Linked DNA regions of Homo sapiens. The protein of the gene in region 3 interacts with the protein of the main gene of each other region in a pairwise test. Each region holds a gene or a part of one and is shown on either strand. Other genes may lie near its edges.

Region 1 (3,859 bases), on a different chromosome or scaffold from region 3:
CACGAAAGATGCTCAGGAAATGTATGAATAAGAACACTGAAGGATGTGGACAGAGAAATACCTTCTTAAGGTTGTACATGCATGGCCAGGTGCCGTGGCTCATGCCTGTAATCCCAGCTACTTGGGAGGCTGAGGTGGGAGGATCATTTGAGGCCAGGAGTTCAAGACCAGCCTGGATAATTTAGCGAGACTCCACAAAAAACTTGAAAAGATTAGCTGGGCATGGCACACGCCTGTAGTCCCAGCTACTCAGGAGGCTGAAGCAGAATTGCTTGAGCCCAGTAGTTTGATGCTGCAGTGAGCTATGATCACACCCCTGCACTCTAGCCTGGGTGACAGAGCAAGACTATCTGTCTCTAGCAACAACAACAAAAAAGATAGTACATGTAGGAAAGGTATTTTTTTTTTGTTTCTTTTTTTAAGCATCAGAGGTATCACGCTGAAGGGAAGTTATCTTTGAAATGAGATCATCTAAGCTGAGATTTGAAGGATAAATTGGAGCAGTTAGGAGAGGATAATCCAAGCAGAAGGATCAGCAAGGGTAGAGATAGTGAAGAGTTGGCTGTTAGAGGAACAAAGAAGGCATGTGGGCCTGGAGGCAAGGACCTGGTACTTATATCCTGTGCCAGAGCCCCCCACCTTCTGCAGCTCTGTCACTCTGAGCTGATACCTATGGGAGCAGGTGAGAGTGACTTGGCCTCACTGAACGTTTCTCCCACTGGAGATGTTGCCACCTGATCTTCTACCCTTGCCATTTCTTCTCTCTCTCATAATTTATTCACTTAACTTCCATTTATTGGCTGTAAATGTGCTAGGGGTCTGGCATGTTCAATTTCAGTATAGTTAGAATAGCTTGACAATCAGAGCAGATGTATCTCTGATCCTGGATAACCCCGTGAATGGAACATGGAGAAGCTGCTCTAGCAGAGGTTGGTTTACAAAACATGAAATTTGCCCAAGAAGAGAGTTGAGCACTGGTCATTCAGCTACTTATTGAACACCTGTTTGCCAGGTACCAGCCTAGGAGTCAGGAATATGATAGTGAACAAAATGGACAAAATCCTTACCCCCATTTACATTAGGGAATTTATAGGGGGAGAAAGAATAGACAACGTAAGTATATTTTATAGTGTGTAGGTAATAGGTAATAAGTACTTTGAAGGGAAAAAGGGCAAAGAGGGTTAGGAAGTGGTGGGGATTATGGGGGAGGGGTATACAATTTTAAATAAAATGGTCAAAGAAGGCCTCAATGAGAAGATGACATTTGAGCCAAGACCTAAAGAGGTGAGGGACTGAGCCATGAGGCTGTCTGGAGAAAGAGCCTTCCTAGCAAAGTGAATAGCACGGGCAAAGGCCCTGGGGTGGATGCATGTTGTGTTCGAGGATCAGTAAAGAGGCCTGTGCGGCTGGAGCTGAGGGAATGATGGGGAGAAGAGTTCAAAGGGTAATGGCCAGCAGGGTGCATGCGTGAGAGAGGAGGGGCATGCATCTCTTATAGGACCTGTGGGCTATGAGGCCATGGTAGGGACTTTGGCTTTTACTATGAGTAAGACAGAGAACCGTTGGAAGACGTTGAGCAGAGGGGTGCTACTGTCTGATTTGGACTGTAAGAGGATCATCCTGGCTGTTGCTGAGATGGGGTGTCAGCAAAGCAGTGTGGGAGCAGCTTTGTTAGCACTCTAAATGGAAGGTGATGCTGGCTTGGAGCTGGGGTTAGTGATGGAGCTAGTGAGAAGCTGCTCATGGATTCTAGATTCATTTTGAAGGTCGGAATCCAATAGGATTTGCCGATAGATTTAAAGGAGAGTATGTTGTTAAGAGTGACTCAGGTTTTTAGCCTGAGGCCCTCTTAAAGATGGTGCTGGCAGGAACTAGATGATGTAGACTGCAGGGTGAGCCAGTTGGGGAAAGGAAGGAAGCAGGAGGTCAGTTTTTATCCCATTGTTTGAGCTGCCTGCTAGTCATCTCCACAGTAATGTGGAGATGTCAGTTACACAGTTTGGACATGTGTGCCCGGGGGTTCTGGGGAGAGGTTGGGCTATGTGGATGGTATGTAAAGCTGTGATACCGGATGATCCACCAAAGAGGCAAAATAGCATAGATGGGGAAGAGAAGAGGTACCAGGCCTGAGCCCTGGGGCACACAGTGTTGAAGGAGAAGGAGAGGAACAAGCAAAGGAGACTGAGAAGGCGCAGACAGTGGCGTAGGAGGGCAGGCAGAGAGCATGGCATCCTAGCATTTGAGGGAAGACAGGTTTTCAGGAAGGAGGGAGTGATCAGTAGTGTCAAATGCTTATCAGCATGAGACTTGTCATTTGACATGACCATTGTGTCTTCTCCTGGCAGGACCCAACACACCTGGCATCCAGAACCATTTCTGAATCTCATTCTTCCTTCCCTAGCCTCGTCTGCTCCTTTCCCTTCCAGGTCCTTTCCTTCAGCCAGGCAGCGGGGCTCACAGACTTCTTGTTTTGGCCTTAGGTAAATCACTCATCTCTCAGTGTCTCTAATTCCTTGTTTTTTAACTGAATTACCCTGAGAATTAAATGAGAAGGGTTGTAAATCACTTAGCAAGAAGCCGTTCCCCAGCTAGTGTTGATTTAATTGTTGTCAGTTCCCTCCGTTGTCACATTGGCAATTTCGTGGTGCATCTCTTTGCCACCTCCACTCTTGCCTCTCTAAATCTGACCTGTCTTTTTGCGTCAGCCAAGCCCCTCTTCATCTAAGAGAACTTCCCTTGCTGCTCCACCTATCTCAGAACCCTCCTCCTCTGGAGGCATGATCACTCTGCCGTTCCCCTGCAGTCCTTTACCTGGCCTCTAAATCTGTAAGAGCTCAGTGAGAAAAGACTGTCCTTTGTTTACTGTGTGCATGCTTCCGTGTGGGGCACAGTTCCAGGCATGGAGCGGATGGTGCTCTACACTGTTAATTTGACAGATCTTCAGAAAGTGTTCCCATTACATAGATGGGAAAACCGAGATCACAAAGAGCGTTGTTCTGTAGTCTCTGGCCTCTTTCTCCTCATCTCGATTAATTTAAGTATTGTTCAGAAGAAGCCTTACTTACTTTATTTTCAAGTCCAGAGGAACTTTTTCTTTTTTTGAGATGGAGTCTTGCTCTGTCACCCAGGCCAGAGTGCAGTGGTGCGATTTCAGGTTCAAGCAATTCTCCTGCCTGAGACTCCTGAGTAGTTGGGACTATAGGTGCGAGCCACCATGTCCAGCTAATTTTTGTATTTTTAGTAGAGATAGGTTTCGCCATGTTGGCCAAGCTGGTCTCGAACTCCTCACCTCAAGTGATCTGCCCACCTCGGTCTCCTAAAGTGCTGGGATTACAGGCATGAGCCACTGCGCCCATCACTTTTTTTTCTTCACAGCAGATCTTTCCGCACATTACGGCTTATAGATCAGTTCAGAACTGGTACCTGATTCTAGAATGGAGTTCTAGAGACTCAAAGCCAATATAAGAACGTTTGCATGTGACATTTGTCTGCCTTTAGTTCCTTTTCATTCTGAAGTCTTTAATTGCTAGTGGGCCTCAGGAAACTGACTTTTTTTTTTTTTTTTTTTTGTGGGACGGAGTCTTGCTCTGTTGCCCAGGCTGGAGTGCAGTGACACGATCTCAGCTCACTGCAAGCTCCGCCTCCTGAGTTCACACCATTCTCCTGCCTCAGCCTCCCGAGTAGCTGGGACTACAGGCACCCGCCACCAGGCCCAGCTAATTTTTTGTATTTTTAGTAGAGATGGGGTTTCACCGTGTTAGCCAGGATGGTCTCGATTTCCTGACCTCATGATCCGCCCGCCTCGGCCTCCCAAAGTGCTGGGATTACAGGCGTGAGCCACTGCGCCCGGCCTTTTTTT
Region 2 (3,859 bases), on a different chromosome or scaffold from region 3:
CTCCATCTCAAAAAAAAAAAAAAAAAAAAAAAAAGGAATTATTTACTGACTGGGCTGGAATGATACTTCTTCAGGTTACCAGACAAGCCTAAGAAACGGACAGGCTAGTGGTTGACGAAGGTGAAGAGGGCCAGGGATGGTGGCAATGAGGGTCCAGTGGCACCTGGACAACAAGCAGGCCCACAAGGGGGCAACGTGATTGGCTAAAGACCAACCAGGGCCAGAGGATGCTAGGCTACCCTCCAGCCAGAGAATCCCTGCACTGTAACAAAAGTTCCTATTACTACTCCAATCCTTAAAATTACTTCATTATTTTACTCTCTTCTGCAATCTTTGATAAATCAAGATCAAGACAATATTTAAAATATAGGCCAATCACCATTTACTGAAGACACCTAAAAAGCCCAATAGCAAGACAGTTTGGATAATAAAATTAAATTCCTATTTAATTGTTTTTGTGTAATTATTCAGGAAGTTTTCCTTCATGTATACCAATGTTTAAATCCTTAAATTATTAAAAACCCAAAAGTTAGAATATTGTGTTAGATTTCTACCAATATAGAAACTGAATTTGAAGATAACAACCATCATATAATATTAATTTGCTGAGCCACTTATTTATTGATTACTTTATTGACAGGGTCTCACTCTGTCACCAAGGCTGGACTGCAGTGGCGTGATCATGGCTCACTGCAACCTCTACCTCCCATGCTCAAAAAATCCTCCCACCTCAGCCTCCCAAGTAGCTGGGACTACAGGCACACACCACCACAACTGGCTAATTTCTGTATTTTTTCGGAAGAGAGGGCATTTCACCATGTACCCCAGGCTGTTCTCGAACTCCTGGGCTCAAGCAACCTGCCCGTCTCAGCCTCTCAAAGTGCTAGGATTACAGGCATGAGCCACTGCACCCAGCCTACTGAGCTACTTTAAAAACTACCACGTGAAAACAGTACTTTTAAAACAAAGTCATATCTTAAAAGACATACTTACCAGTTATAACCAAGAGTAGAGTCATAAAAGTTTCTGCACAATCTGGAACTTTCATTTCATCCACGTCAGTGATATCCTTATATTGCGATACCCAGGCAGCTTCTGAGGAAAGCATTGAGTCCATTTTTTGAAGAGCAACTGATAAGCAGACAAAACAATTATGTCAATTAAGTAGTTACAGTCGTTCCTAATTATTCAACTTGTAATTTTTTAGGAATGATGGCTTTTCTATAAAAAAGAAACAAACCTACAATATCCCACTGGTTGTACTAAATTTAACTTAATTAATGCTTTAAACAGGATACTTTACTCCCATCCCCAAATTCTGAAAATAGTTATGTTGACTAGATAAGCTACAGTAAAAAATATTCTATTGGCCAGGCACGGTGGCTCACACCAGTAATCCCAGCACTCCAGGAGGCCAAGGTGGGTGGATTGCTTGAGTCTAGGAGTTCACAACCAGCTTGGGCAAAACCCCAGGGAAACCCCATCTCTACAAAAAATACAAAAAGTAGCCAGGCATGGCTTGCATATACCTATACTCCCAGCTACTGGGGTGGCTGAGGCAGGAGGATCACCTGAGCCCCAGAGGTCGAGGCTGCAGTAAGCCATGATCGGCCCACTCCACTCTAGCCTCGGTGACAAAGTGAGACCCTATCTCAAAAATAAAAAAATAAAATATTCTGACACTTTGGGAGGCCAAGGCAGGTGGATTACTTGAAGTCAGGAGTTCCAGACCAGCCTGGCCAACATGTTGTAACCCTGTCACTCCTAAAAACAGAAAAATTAGCCAGGCGTGGTAGTGCGTGCCTGTAATCCTAACTACTCGGGAGGCTGAGACAGGAGAATCGCTTGAACGCAGGGGGTGGAGGTTGCAATGAGCTGAGATCAAACTACTGCACTTTAGCCTGGACAACAGAGCAAGAGTCTGTCCCAAAATAAATAAATAAAAATAAAATAAATTATATGATAAAATCTATAAAACAAACACCCCACTGGCTTGACTATTCCACTCTAGAAATATGTAGAGTGTAATTTCAGGAAAAATGGAAGTTTCATGTGAAGTAAAGAAAAGATTATCTCTGAAGGAAACAGAAAACCCTGAAAAGGAAATTTCAAATGGCTCTAGTTCCTATTTAGAACTGGAGAAGAAAAATATCAAAAATGTATACCCACAGAAACAGACATATCTCCCTACCATCTGGCCACATCAGCACTTACATTTTCTCTCCACCGTCAACCATCTCTGAAAACAGGTTTCCTCTGATAGAATATGCATACAACTAGCAAAAGTGCCAGGATAGCCATGAACACTGTGTAGCTCCCTTTCAAACAAGAGTACTTCATCCACCAAATGACAGAAGAGATTGTCATCATATAGCAGACAAGGAATATCAGTGGCTAACTTCTCAAGAACCAGCATCATAAGGCCCCGAGAAAATTCAAGCTAAAAAAATACACAAACATGAGGTATGTAAATAAAAAGTTATCCATGCACACATACAGTTCTAAAACAGAAACACTTATGACTGAGTCTCTTACCCTTGCGTTTACCAAAGAGCCTACTTTGTCTAATATTGGCTGAATCTTCTCATCCAGAAATTCAGTATGGTTTCCAATCCACATAAGTACTTGAGCCAAGTACCATTCTGGCTAAGGAAGGAGGAAAATAGTTTGAATTCTTAAGTCATTCCAATTAGAAAGTTACAATTACATGGTTCTATTTAATTGTATATGCACAACACTTATAAAAATTAGTTGAAAATTCCTGTATGTAAGAGCACAATTTCTACTCCAAATTTTAAACTCCTGCAAGGCTTAATAATCAAATGTTTGCTAATGTACTCCCAACAAATTTCAATAATATGACTTAAGTCAATAAACTCATAAATTTACAATGCCATATATATTTAAAACCTAGCACTTCAATAATATGTAAAATGATGAGTATTACAAAGAACTGATGGCCTATATTTTTTGAAATAGCATTTGAAAATAATTTTAATATTATTTTCTTATGGTTTTTATTTTCAAAAAGTAAATCAAGAAAAAAATTGCTGGCCAGGCGTGGCAGCTCATGCCTGTAATCCCAGCACTTTGGGAGGCCGAGGTGGGTGGATCAGCTGAGGTCAGAAGTTCAAGACCAGACTGGTCAACATGGTGAAACCCCGTCTCACCTAAATATACAAAAATTAGCTGGGCGTGGTGGTGGGCACCTGTAATCCCAGCTACTCAAGAGGCTGAGGCAGGAGAATCGCTTGAACGCGGGAGGCAGAGGTTGCAGTGAGCCGAGATCACACCATTGCGCTCCAGCCTGGGCAACAAGAGTGAAACTTCGTTCCAAAAAAAAAAAATTGCTAGTCTGCATTACAAAAACTACGCATGTCTTATACAGGTTTAAGAGCAGAAATACCAAGTACATGCCAGGCGCAGTGGCTCACTCCTGTAATCCCAGCACTTTGGGAGGCTAAGTCAGGTGGATCACCTGAGGTCAGGAGTTCCAGACCAGCCTGACCAATATGGTGAAACCCATCTCTACTAAAATTACAAAAATTAGTCCAGTGTGGTGACATGTGCCTGTAGTCCCAGCTACTTGGGAGGCTGAGGCAGGAGAATCGCTTGAACCTGGGAGGTGGAGGTTGCAGTGAGCAGAGATTGTGCCACTGCACTCCAGCCTGGGTGACAGAGCGAGACTCCAACTCACAAAAAAAAAAAAAGAAAAGAAATACCAAGTGCTTACTATTTGCTTTGCTTTGTTTTGCAATGATAACTCAGCAATATCTGATGCCCAAGAGCGGAAATACCATTTTTCCTACAGTATATGAACACAAGTCCTCAATTATATGTATGAACAGCAGTAACAAAA
Region 3 (5,732 bases):
TGATCTGACTTCGAGGGAGGAGTAAGGACTGATACCTCAATCTGCATCATCTGGGGTGGGGCATGGGAGCTGGGTCAGCAAAATGGGGAAGGTTCATCTAAAGAGAAAGTCGTACTGATACTGGAACCTCAAGTAATGGGAGGGGCACAGGGAGGAATCCAAGGTATCCTGAGAAACCAGCCCACCCACCCACAGGAATTGGGGGGTGGGGTGGACAGTCCTATTTCTGTAGGGGTTGTGGGGCAGAGGAGGAGAGCAGGTGGTGATAGCCAGAGACCAGAAAAAGAACCATTGGCCTTATATGTATGGGGTGCTTTGAAGAAAAATTTCTGGATTAGGGGTGTCAGAAGCAATCTGGACTGGGCAAGATGGTGGATGACCAAGATGGTGGACCACCTTCTCTAGGCAGTTTAAAGAAGGGTAGAGGCACCCTTCTTCTTGGGAGTGAGTGAGGAAAGAAGGGTCAAGGAGATGCTGGGGTCCCCTTCCAGGGAGGAGTGACGAGAGGTGGTGGAAGCAGAGATTTTTGAGAGGCACCTAACCTTCAGGGATCTGTTGTTTGAATGTATGAAAAAGGAAGAGGGAAAATGGCTGGAATATGAGGAATCGAGGATAGACATTGTTATAGGCTGAACTGTGCCCTCCCCCACTCCACACACACACACAAAGATAGGTTGAAGTCCTCCAAACCTCAGAATGTTACCTTGTTTTGAAACAGGATCTTTACATAGGTAATCAAGTTAAAATGAAGGTCATTAGGGTGGGCTCTAATCCAGATTGCTGACTTACAAAAAGAGGAAATTTGGACACAGAGACAAATGCATACAAAAGAAAATGTGCAGACCTATCACCCAAAGAACATGTGAGGCTACCAGAGGCTAGGAGACAGGCATGGAACAGATTCTGTCTCATGGCCGTCAGAAGGAACCAACACTGCTGACACCTTGATTTCAGACTTCTACCTCCTGAACTTTGAGATAAATGTCTGTTGTTTCAGCCACCTACTTTGCGGTGCTTCATTAGAGCAGTACTAGGAAACTAATGCAGACATCAAAAAGGACCTGATCACTTTTTAGGGCTAAAAGGAAGAAAATCTAACACAGACTTTCATTCAATTCCCTTCCCTCCCTTCTTCTTTCCTTACCTGTCAGTCTATGAAGCATTTTTTTGACCACTGGATAATCTTCAGGGAGATCATCCTCTGAATTAGATGACTTGGATGTTGGGACTTCAAATCTACACAGATGAGGGGAAGGGTCAGGAAATCAGCCCTCTGATCCTAATGCCCCCACGCATACCCCACTCACATCTCTGGAGGAAGAAGGGATGAGACTATACCCCAGAAAACCTGCCTATTAATGGGAACAAAGGTGTGGGCCCAGTGAGAACGTGATGGCTATGGCAGCTGGTGAGAAAAGGAGGGAACAGAAAAGTGGAACTCACCGTCTCCATGTCTTCCTCATATCCTAGGATGGGCAGAAACAAACATGGATGTGAGCTCTGGGCTTCATTCCCTGGGGCATCCTTCCCTATCTCTCCCCTCCTCAGGTGAGTTCTGTCTGAGTTAGCAGTGTCCCTCCTCACCTTTCAGAGTGATCTCACCTCTTTACACACTGTGCTCCTTTCCCTCTCATTCTCCTCCTTCACCTTTCATGATCCCTCCTTCCTCTCACCCCATCACTTTTCCCTCATCCTCCTAACTCCATCCCCACTGTCCTCCCCCTTTCCACTCCCCAAGGGTTCTCAATTCTCTTTTCCCAGGCTCGTCCGTGACTGTTTCTTGTCCTCAGAGCCCTTGCCTTCCTTGCTGCCTCCTCAGTCCCATTCTCTGTCTCTTTCAGCGGCCCCATCCTTATCTACCTTCCCCAGTGCATCCCAGAAAAACATCTGTCCCTTCCTCCCTCCATCACACAGACCAAACACACACCCAGAGCCCTCGGGCTAAGAGTTGGTATATAAAAGCCTTACAATAAAGCTGCTTCCCCTCTTGCAATAAAAGCCCAGTGGCATTTATTGGGCCCTTTGCTTTGTGTCTCTGGACCCTGGCCAGGGAGGCAGCTAGACTTGAATGTGTCCCAAAAGGCCCAGCAGATCCACAGAGTACTATGGGAGCCAGGAGAGGGCACTGGATGCTCCCCTCCAAACACTGGGATACCGACCCCTCCACTTCACTGTCTAGTGCTGATGGCTGGAGCAGGCCGATATGGTGGAGCGGGGGAGAGAGAAACAATTTGCATAATTGTGCCAATTACTTTCAGACTAATTAGGTCTATGAAGACTTCAAAGGGCAGAAGCAAGACCCAAGACCAGCTTGGCTGCTGGGAAGAAGCCAGTCAGGAGTCCCAGACGCCCAGGGGTCGGTCGGGCAAGGGAATGGGCTGGTTAGTGGCCAAGGAGCCGGGGCCCAGGAGAGGCGCGGGGGGTAGATGGGTGGTAAGACTGGGATGTGGAGAGGAGCCAGAGGCCCCAGCGGCTGTTCTCCCGCACCTCGCCTCCACCCCTGGCCGCTCCTGCCTGGGGCCTTGGGAGGAGCCGAAATAACAATAACAAACAACACAGGGCTTAGCTTGAGCCAGAGTCCGAGACCAACCCCCACGACGCTACGGGGAGGTTTGGATATGCCCCAACCCCTTGCTCCCTTCCTCCATCCTCTTGTCAGTCCCCTCCTCCCCAGCTTTTTCTCCGCCCCCAACCCACCAGCCCAGCCTCCTGCTCCCGCTCCTCTAAGCAGGTTCTGCCCTCGCCCACCATCCTCCCAGGACCCCTCCTCACCCTCAGCTGGGTCGGCTCTCCCTTCCGCCCGCCGCTCCCTCCCCTCCGCCAGCTCTCCTCCTCCCGGGCGCCTGCGGCTGCCCTGCCAAAACTTCTGCAGTTCCCATGCCCTTCGCGGCGACTCCAGGGCTCTCCGCGTTCTATCCGGTACCCCTTCTCTGCCTCCCCAGTCTCTTCTCTCCAGCCCCTCTCACAAGGCTCAGGCATCGGTCCAGCCTCCTCCCCTGTGGACCAAGTGTCAACTCCATCCATCGTCCTTCCGGGCGCCTCTCACCTTGAGGACCCAGGGTCCTCGCCCCCTCATCCTTTGCTTTTCTCTCCCCACCCCATCCTTTGCCTAAACTTCCACAGGGCCTCCGGCTCCAGACGTGCCATTCCCGGCTTCCCCGGGAACCTCCCGCTTCCACCAACAACTCCGCGACGCGCGCCCAGCCTCACCTCTCCGGGCAGGTCCAGGCAGCCCATGGTGGGGATGCGCCCCCCTCGGCGTCTCCCCGCACGGGCCCCAGGCTCAGCCAGCTTCTCTCGCAGCTCGCGGCTGATTCGCACCTCCACCGCCAGCCGCACATTAGACCTCAGGCTGCGGCGGGGACACGGCAGGCCGCAGCAGGGACAGGCGGTGGGGGAAGCCTCGGTGCCGGTCGCCGGCGGAGTCCCCCAGCGGCGGGCCAGACACGCGCGGCAGAAGCTGTGCTCGCACGCCAGAAGCACCGGGTCCTCGAAGGAGCCCCCGCACAGAGGACACGTCGCCAGCTGCTCCAGACGCTCCACCAGCCCCGGGCCCAGCTCGGGCGCATCCATGGAAAGCCAGGATCTGGACGCCGCCCCTTCCGCGACCACCGTGACCGCCTTCGAGCGCGCAGATGGCGGGCCGCCCCTGCTGCTTGCTGTGTAGATGCCCTTCTCTCCGACTCCCGCATTAACTTTTGCCGCTTTCCGCCCCTCTCCTGGGATTGCCTCTCTCTTCAACCAGAGTCTCAGTCTCGTCAAATCTCTCCACCACATCAGGCTTTATAGGGAGGGAGGAGGCTCCCACGGGAGGTAAACACCAGGCCTTGCGTAACGCCTCATCTGGTTCTCCTGCTTCCCGGGTAAGGTTTGGGGGAGCAGGGAGGGGAGAATAGCACACCTGGTTCCCAGAGCCTAGGAGGCGGTCACTAGAGGGCGCTCTGGGGCGGGGTAGCCCTGTGTGGGGAGGGTAGCCCCCTGTGACCCCCCGAAGAGCCCCAATTTTACCTTCCCCTCCGCCTGTGGTACGCGCATGGGCCGGGTGCCCAGGCTCACTCTTGGCATGTGCGCCCACATTGCCAAGGTGCGAGTCATTCCAGGTGGCTGGCACACCTACATCTGGGGGCTGGGGGCCGGAAGCACAGATCCTGGTTTGTGTGGCTTTGGCAAGCCTCTGAGTGTTGATGTGTGGTTTTCATTCCTGGTGCCTCTCGCCTTTCCATCTTCCTTCCTTACCTATTAAGGGCTTAAGGGCATTCTGCAGCTCTGGGGTAAGGGGTGGGGAGCAGGCGCCCACACTTCGGCCTCAGGGAGTCGGGGCAGAGCTCTTTCAGCTCTACCTCTGGCCAGCTCCCAGGGCCTCTCCTTACTTTCTTCGTAAGTCTCTCTTTCTGGTTCTTTCTCTCTGTTTTTCCCCGTGTGTGATTTTATTACCAGTTTTCTCTTTCCTTCCTTCTTTGGAATGTACCCGGTATTATCTATTTCAACTCTGGTAGTTCACAGAGGCCCAGAGAACTGGAATAGCCAAGGTCACATAGCAAGGGAATGACCAGAAGTGGAGCCCTACCCTGGTCTTCTGACTTGTGTTCTTGCTGTGAGTCAACCCTGCCTTTTTCAGTTGCAGATCCCTGGGACCCCCTCCTGCTTCCTGATTTTTTTCTGGTGTTCCTTTGTGCCTTCATTCCTCACCTCCATTCTCTCTTTTTCTCCTTACCTGCTCCTCTCCCCACCTCTCCTCTTCCTCCCTGCTCCCTCCTCTTCCTAGCTTCTCTACCCTTCCAATGCCAGGCCTAGCTAACTGGATACTCATGGGGGTTTGTGCATAAGTAAACATCCAGATGTCTACAACTATGATCACCCACACTGTTATATAACATGTGTCTGCATCCATCAGTGTCCAAATGCCCAAATGTGCACAAACTTGCAGACAGAAGCATTCATGTAATACAAACATCACAGCTAAATATAATGTGTATGAATAGCCTCATATGCATTGAATATCACTGGGATAAATGTCCAGTATTATTTAGGAACAGACGGACATGCTCAAAGAAAACAGGCAAAGAGACAGATACTCTATCATCAGTTTTATTATTAATAAGAATAACAGTATAACAGCAGTAAGTCTTTATGGAGCAGCAGGACTTTATTAGGCACCCCCTCCAGGCACTCTTCTTCTGCCTCCCCCATACTTATCGGGGAGACACTCAAATATGACACCCTGATAAACAAACCTACACAAACAAACACACGTACATTCATCTTGGAACAACCCTCCCGGCTCAGTGCTCATAAAACACACAGATACCCAAGCATAAGACTACAGTTGTGACTGAAATCTATTTTGTAAAAGATGCACTTCTATGCTCTGATAGGTAGCATAGAGAGATAGCAGCATGAGAAGTGATCGGCCTGACATTGCTGGCTTTGGAGACTGAGGCAGGAAGCCACAAGCTAAGGAAGTGGGTAACCTCTGGAAGCTGCAAAAGACGAGGGAATGGATTCTCTAGCAGACCATTCAGAAGGAACCTAGCACTGCTGACACCTTAATTTTTGCCCAGTAAGACCCATTTCAGACTCTGAACTACAGAATAATAAAGTAACAAATGTGTATTGTTTCAAGCTCCTAAGTTTGTGGTAATTTGTTACAGTATCAATAGGAAACTAATACACAAGATTGCCTTTTCTCCTCCAGTCTCTGACTCTCTGAGTCTGTTTGCACTTCTGTGTTG

What was found. Proteins that work in one complex are often made in the same cells at the same time.
Region 1: the proteins of RNF39 (region 3) and AP1B1 interact in binary tests that used the Homo sapiens proteins (3 or more experiments, as listed by UniProt).
Region 2: the proteins of RNF39 (region 3) and RINT1 interact in binary tests that used the Homo sapiens proteins (3 or more experiments, as listed by UniProt).

The regions. Positions count from the first base shown.
Region 1 is NC_000022.11:29,378,571-29,382,429, reverse strand, and holds part of AP1B1 (AP-1 complex subunit beta-1), read left to right. Parts: intron 1-3,859. UniProt on the Homo sapiens protein: Subunit of clathrin-associated adaptor protein complex 1 that plays a role in protein sorting in the late-Golgi/trans-Golgi network (TGN) and/or endosomes.
Region 2 is NC_000007.14:105,548,842-105,552,700, reverse strand, and holds part of RINT1 (RAD50-interacting protein 1), read right to left. Parts: exon of another isoform or gene 3,734-3,859; intron 2,647-3,733; coding exon 2,536-2,646; intron 2,441-2,535; coding exon 2,215-2,440; intron 1,132-2,214; coding exon 994-1,131; intron 1-993. UniProt on the Homo sapiens protein: Involved in regulation of membrane traffic between the Golgi and the endoplasmic reticulum (ER); the function is proposed to depend on its association in the NRZ complex which is believed to play a role in SNARE assembly at the ER.
Region 3 is NC_000006.12:30,072,013-30,077,744, forward strand, and holds the start of RNF39 (RING finger protein 39), read right to left. Parts: upstream 3,758-5,732; 5' UTR 3,574-3,757; coding exon 3,211-3,573; intron 1,467-3,210; coding exon 1,444-1,466; intron 1,237-1,443; coding exon 1,145-1,236; intron 1-1,144.